2 linked regions of the Homo sapiens genome follow. The gene in region 2 interacts genetically with the main gene of each other region. Each region holds a gene or a part of one and is shown on either strand. Other genes may lie near its edges.

Region 1 (3,651 bases), on a different chromosome or scaffold from region 2:
CAAAGGGGCAAGGAAAGAGGCTGGCAGGAGAGAAAAAACATTTTTCCCCCATAATGTAGTGCAAGAACCTTTACAGATATGGTCTCACCAAAGTCAGCTTTGTGCAACACCACGGATGCCAAGTGCAAGCTGTCCTGACAAGGCACATTTCACTGATGAAGCATTTAATAAATTGCAGATAACCCTTATTACAGGGTTACCCCTATTTTGTAGCTGGGGAGACAGGTGCTCAGAAGGATTCAGTGGTTTGGCAAGGGAGACAGCAAGAACACTAGGGCAGTGTGAGGTGGCTGGGAGAAGGGGCAGCCGGCAAGGTCAGGCACTTCCCACGGCAGGAGACTGGCACCGAGCAGGGGCAGGAGGGAAACAGGGACACCACCTGCTCCATGCCTGCAGAATCCTACCTCCACGGGGCAAGGCAAGGGCAAACCACCCAGCCTGGGGAGCTTTGCACACCAAGGCTCATAGAGGAAGACTGGCTAGGGAGCATTCGCCGAATGGAATCAGGTAGGGCTCTCATATCAGTAGCATTCTTGGGAACACCCTCTGACTGATCTCCAGGAACGCATGCAAATGACTGCATAACATATGCAAATGACTGCATAACAACAGGTACACATCTTGGCTGGTCGGAAACACTGCTTCTGGCCTGCTTGGTAATAAATCCTAGGTGTATGGTTACGCACATTTGTCCTCCACGCCCTGATATGCAGGTGCCTCCGGCTTCCTTGTAGCTGCACCATTATTTTCCCCTAGCTAAGCAGTTAGCAGGCAAGGCTTCTCACGCAGCTGCAAGTCAGATGTGATTAACAGTATTTCATATGGAATATATTTGTGTCTGATCCATTTGCTTGATTAAATCACACTGTAGCTTAACAGCCTATTTGTTGATAATTTTTACTTATTTGAATTCAATGTAATAGCTTTTACTAGTGAAAATATATCAGCAAACATAAAACGCTGAGAAAATGCAACACAACCTAATTCAGTGTAATCAGAAATAAAAGCAGAGCATTCTAGAGAATGCTGCTAGTCTTAGACCAGCTCTGCTTATTTAATAAGCACAGATCCTTGGAGCAAAAAAGGTAGAGTATTTCTGGCTAAGTTACTGGTTACCAACTCCACGTCATACAAAGTAAACTCATCCTGGTCCCCCATATCAAAGGAGCACTCTCCTGGCAGCTCCCTGAAGGTCCCCAAGGCCGCACACATCTCTGGTTGACCCGAACGTTGCCTTCATCCTGAAGCTACAGCCCTAAAGCCTCTTTCCTCCCCTTCCCCTTCACAGCCAGCAGCCCTGGAAGCTGCCTCAGAGAGTTCATACTTCTCCCACCCACTATTAAATTGCCACTTCTGAGAAACTATTTGCCCCACATGTGAGAAACAGAATGAAATTCCAGGTAAATGGTAAGTCAGAGGATGTGAACATAGTTCCTTTTTTATTTAATGGGCTTCCACTTCATTCTTCTACTTCTGAATGCATGAAAAATAGTCTGAACAGTCTTTGCTGTGCTGGGTGTGGCCAAAGACAGTCAGCACGTGGGTTTACGGAAAAGGACGGGCAAAGCAAAAGGGGCAAAATCTCACTACGTTTAGTTGTCTTTTCACATCGTTTAAAAAAACAACAACACTATTTCGGGGATTTTTCCTGAACGTAAAGAGAGAAAGTATGTAATGAAATTCCAAGCATAAGGCATATCACAGAAATTGTGACCACAAATAAGGAATTAAGCTTAATGTCTTTAAAATGAGTATATAAAGGAGCAAAAAGAAGAACAAATTCCAATTCAGTATTCACTAATATGGACTATTTATTGTGGTTTTTTTTTGGCTGTCAGAAAATCCAATAAAATTAAGATAAACATAATTTCTTTGGGAGCATTTATTGAGAGTACCTGAAAATTATCTTAATTAGAAATGGTTTTCTTGGAAACCACCCAAGATCTAGAAGAAGAGCTCACCTATCATGCCCCAAGAATAAGCCTTAGTGGTAAACTTTCCAGGAAGCTTTCTTTTTATCCATGACTGGAGCCAATATTGTTCCTGATGCTTGCTAAGAGTCCCTTCACACTTCCTTTATTAGGATACCATGTTTTCCTTAAAAGGGATGAGCAATTAAAATGTCTTTATATGTACAGATAGATGAATTCTGATGATCTGTGACCACCAGAAATAGAAATAAATTGACAATTGATCTAATCAGACCATTTAAATCCAAAGCTGCCAATAATTTCACAGCACTTATACCCTGATAGCAAGCTTCTTTTGACTTGTTTGCCTCTATTGTTAGACATTAAGCTCACTGAGGGCAGGGATCCTATTTTTATGTCCCAGTTGCTTAGCACAATGCACACAGTATGTGCTAAAATCTTTTGAGTGTATGAACAATTGAGCAAATAGATAAATAAAACGAAATTCTCCTTCCACTCAGCAGTTCATCACTAGCAATATCCCAGGTAGAGTCTCGCATTTTGTCTTCCTCATTCACTCCCTACTGTCTTTCAGGAGAAATGCCAGTTACAGCTGAAATAGCTCAAATAATAGGTCACCAAAGAGAACCCTCTGGCTTTGGTAACTCCAAACTAATAACTGCTTCCTAAATGAAATGACTTTGCATATTGACACCTTTAGCAAGTTGGTGGAAGTCTTGAGTTAATAATCTCACTTTTAATTAGTTTAAATGTACATTCCCTGTTGGAAGAAATACAAACTAAGCTTTGGAGGTTCCACATCCCATCTTCTGAGGCTCTACTGGCGTGTGGAAAGGTTGAGTGGGGAGAAGATTCCTTTCAGCTCAGTGGACCTATGGTTCTGCTAAGTTAGGACGGTGAGGGTGGTGCATTTCCTTGCTCTCAAAGCCACCTTAGCTCATTAGGCAACTGGCATGGGTAACGTATTTTGTAGATAAGTGCAGTGACTCATAGGCCAGACACTCAGAGGGTATCCTATCCCAGCCAGGTGACGGTAACTCCAGCTTAGCAAATGGGCCAGTGTCCCCTTTCCTCATCTATGAAGTGGACTGTTGAATGAGATGCAGGTTACTCTGCCCAGCAATGTGTCGTGGTTCTTAGGCAATACTGTCAATGCCCTGAAAGCAGAGCTCTCTTGGGGATGAGGGTCTTGCGGTCACTGAGACCTGACACCTTTCTGGGGCACACCCATGGAAGTCTATGGAAGATACCCAGTTTTCCTCTAGAAACCCCCAAAATTATAGTTGCCAGAGTCAACAACTTGGCCATCTCACTTGGTTCTATGCTGATAGAGGACAAAAATATTCAGTGAATTTCATTTTAATCTGTAATTAATAAACTGTTTCCAAATATGATTAAGTAACCTGACTTCTCTGTCACTTAGGGTTTAGCAAATGTTGGGTTATGGACGTAAAATTTATTTTAAAATCAAGTATGTTCAGAGAAGTTTTGCCAAGCATAAATGTAAAAGAGAGGAAAAAAAAGAAGGAACTTTAGAAATTTCTCATTATTTAAAAAAATAAAAAATGAAAATAAATAAAATCAAGTATGAAAACATTAGGACTGAGTCTCTCTCTGAAAGCCTTTTAAATGAAGATATTGTTTTCAACTTAAAGTAACTACATTAATTTCCTGTTTATGTCACTAGACTTTGAATTTCAAATAACAAAAATTTTCAAAG
Region 2 (3,651 bases):
ATGGAAGGCAGGCAGGTGTGGAGAGATATTAAGATTTTTATTAACTCCTGAAAATGCTCCTATCGGAAGAGAACAGATGTTTTTACAATAATATTTGTGAAATATGGAAACTACCTCCTTGGGAATTCTGGATTCATTTTACCTGATTCTAAGGCCTCATGACCTCCCAAATACATTCTACATTTCATTCTAACTAGAAAATAAAGTTCTGTGGATTTCTGGAGTGCTGTGCAAGAGATGACCAAACAAGCCACCTGGAGCTATTATTACTTCAGAAACACATCACAAAGATAAGACACAGCAAGAAATCCTGGCACAGATTTCTAGAACTGTTGTGACTCAACACCCACAGTGAAGGTATCATACTTTCTTTGAAGAAGAACAACAACCAAAGGCCTCACATAATTAGTACGAATAAACTTAAACGATCTGAAATACTTCTGGCCAACTCAAGTCAGTGAATTCAAGGAAGAAATGTAGTAAAGAAAACGAAATTCACTTCTTTTCTAAGAGTTGAAACTAACCATGTGTTTGAGACTCCTGCTTAGCTAGCCAATGCTTTCATTTATAAAGTAATTTGAATGGAGAAACTGAGATGAACCTAGTCATTCTTGAATGGTGAGTCAGAAAGATTGTATATACCCTGGATATTGCCACTGACTTTCTTTTTAAAAGGCAAGATAGACTATGTGTATGCTATGCCTCTAATCAACTAGTTTAATAGTCTGATGAAAACAGGAAAATAGGCTTCTGCAGCCTGATTTGTTCTTGGTGAACCTATGCAGCTCCTAAGGATCACTACATCCCTTCCGTTTCCAAGAGTTAATGAACTGTTTATAAAAATTTTTTTCTCTCACAGGGATTTGTGGAGATCATTAAGCTTAATATCTATAGTTCCTAGAAAGAAAGTCTAGGCTGGATGCAGTGGCTTACCCCTGTAATCCCAGCACTTTGGGAGGCTGAGGTGGGCGGATCACTCAACGTCAGCAGTTCGAGACCAGCCTGGCCAACATAGTGAAACCCAGTCTCTACTAAAAATACAAAAATTAGCTGGGTGTTGTGGCGGGCACCTGTAAAAAACATTTGTTAAATGATGAATGACCAAACAAATGAAGTAGGGTCTAGACTTTCTTTTTCTTTCTTTCTTTCTTTCTTTTTTTTTCTTTTTTTGGATGGAGTTTCACTCTGTTGCCTAGGCTGAAGTGCAGTGGCACGATCTTGGCTCACTGCAACCTCTGCCTCTTGGGCTCAAGCAATTCTCCTACCTCAGCCTCCTGAGTAGCTGGGACTACAGGTGTGTGCCACAGTGCCCCGCTATTTTTTTTTTTTTTGTATTTTTGGTAGAGACGGGGTTTCACCATGTTGCCCAGGCTGGTCACGAACTTCTGCCATGTTCTTAACTCTTCAAGGTAAATGACTTGTTCTTTGACACTTGTGAGGCAAACCTGAGCTTAGATAGTTAAATTTTTATTATAACATATCAAGTAATTTGTGAATTTATAATCAACACCTGATAAGATTTTTTTTTTGGCCATAACTCACCCCACTATGATTTACCTATCCCATCCTACCTCTTATTCTGTTCAGAGCAGTTTCCAGACTGACTCACTTCTTCAATGACAAGTCCTTTGTACAAAAGAGAGTCATCTTATTTTCATGATACACAGTGATGTTTAGTGTAGACTTATATATCCACTTGGCTGTTTAATAGCTACCTCAAATTTAACAAGCCTAACTAAACTCTTTCCCCATATTCCTCTACACTGCTTCTCTCCTTTGCTTCCTCATCTCAGAAATGGCAATTCTACCTGTTTAGTTCCTGAAGTCCAAAACCCTGGGGTCACTGATGCCTCTTCTCTGTCTGTCATATCCCTTATCTAATCAATCTGAAAAATCCTTCAGCCATTCCTTCAAAATCTCTCTAAAATCTGACCACTTCTCCCCACCCACACTGCTTCCATCCTGGTCTAAGCCACCATCATCTCTTGCCTGGATTATTGTAATACTCTCCTAAAGATTCTTCCTGCTTGTATCCTTTCTTCCTGCACCTATTTTCAATACAGCAGCCAGAGGAATGCTGTTAAAACATACATCAGATCCTGTCATTCCTCTGCTCAAAATCCTCCAGTGGTCCTCCATTTCATGCAGAATAAAAGCCAGAGTCCTTACCTTGGCCAACAAGGCTCTAGATTGGATTTTGCTTTCTTAACTCATCTCCTTCCCTCTTCCTCTTCTTACTCTGCTCCCAGCCACACTGATCTTTCTGGAACATACCAAACATTCTTCTGCTTCAGAGCCTTTGAATTTTCTGCTTCTTTTTTCCCCAGACATTTGCATAGCTCTTACTTCATTTCATTCAGGTCTCTTCCCAAATGTTCCCTTATCAGAGTACCTTCCTTGATCATCTTACAGCATACCCCATCACTCTCTCTCCCTGTTGCTCAGCTATATTTTTCTTCATACCACTTATCAAATTTAACCAACTTTATTTATTGTCTGCCTCTTTATGCTGGAAGTAAATCACTTTGAGGGCAACAGGACATATTTATTGAGGGTCTACTAGGTGCCAAGTCTGTTTCTAGGCAGTGGGAATATTAAAAAAAATCCTTATTGAATGTTTATTCAAGTACTATATAAACTGCTGTATTTACTTAGTAAATATTTGATGAGTGTATTGAATAAATATAGTATACGCTCATCAGAGTAACAAGAATGGTTCAAAGGAAAAGGAGATTTGGATTGACTTACCACTCTTTAACTCATTGGAGCATCTGCCACATCTAAAGAAATGGTTCTACAGACCACCAGGTGAAAAGTTGGAAATCTAATAAAATTCAAGGACCCCCAGGCATTCTATACTCCTAACTCTAAGGGACTCTTGGATTCCTCCAAGCTATACTGATTAAAGAAAAATGCCTGGACTGCATGAGAAACTTGGCATTGGCACCAAGAGACTAGAGTCTAGTGACTGACTAGAGTATCAGATCAGGAGGGAAGTATATAAGAAGTGCTAAAAATTAATGAGAGGCTTTGACCTTGACCAGAGAGAAAACTGTTTTGTATTAGGACAGAATAAACATTCTAAGGAAGATCGGTATCAGAGACGTTGGTAGCTGAATTTGGATAAAGTAGTTTTAGGGAAAGGAGGAAATTATTTTCTTTAAGAGAAAACTTCGGAGGTTAGATGAAGAGGTAAACCTTAGAAGCCATTAGACTTACCACTCAGAGAGGGAGGGAAGACCACGCCCACTATAGAAGGTGATATTGCTCTTACCACCTGTCTCCTCTCTTCCTTTGCAACCAGGGATTATGAAAAGTTTGATGGTTGTGGGAGTAGCCTCAGGGGAAAAGCTGAAGGTGGAGAGACTTACATGTATCAGAGGGTGAGATGATTAGGAGAGGAAAGGGTCCATGCTTCTTAGCTCCCTGCTTCCACATAGCCAGAAGACTTCTGGGAAACTGGCTACAAGTAGTAGGTGAATAATGGGTAACTTTTACTACATGGACTGCATTTCTTAGGCTTGAATTGGTCATCAATTGTATGCAAAATGACTTCTCTAGAGAATGGCCCCACTGGTCCAGTTCTCCATTCAAAGGCTCAATGCTGCTGCCACCTCCACTGACTAGAAAACCCTATCTTACTGCTCTGGC

Evidence for each region. Genes that interact genetically often act in the same process or in processes that back each other up.
Region 1: changes in EDA (region 2) and RPS6KA2 together harm fitness less than expected from each alone (positive genetic interaction), as found in Homo sapiens cells (one large-scale study listed by BioGRID).

Annotation. Positions count from the first base shown.
Region 1 is NC_000006.12:166,620,601-166,624,251, forward strand, and holds part of RPS6KA2 (ribosomal protein S6 kinase alpha-2), read right to left. Parts: intron 1-3,651. UniProt on the Homo sapiens protein: Serine/threonine-protein kinase that acts downstream of ERK (MAPK1/ERK2 and MAPK3/ERK1) signaling and mediates mitogenic and stress-induced activation of transcription factors, regulates translation, and mediates cellular proliferation, survival, and differentiation.
Region 2 is NC_000023.11:69,958,537-69,962,187, reverse strand, and holds part of EDA (ectodysplasin-A), read right to left. Parts: intron 1-3,651. UniProt on the Homo sapiens protein: Cytokine which is involved in epithelial-mesenchymal signaling during morphogenesis of ectodermal organs. Functions as a ligand activating the DEATH-domain containing receptors EDAR and EDA2R. May also play a role in cell adhesion.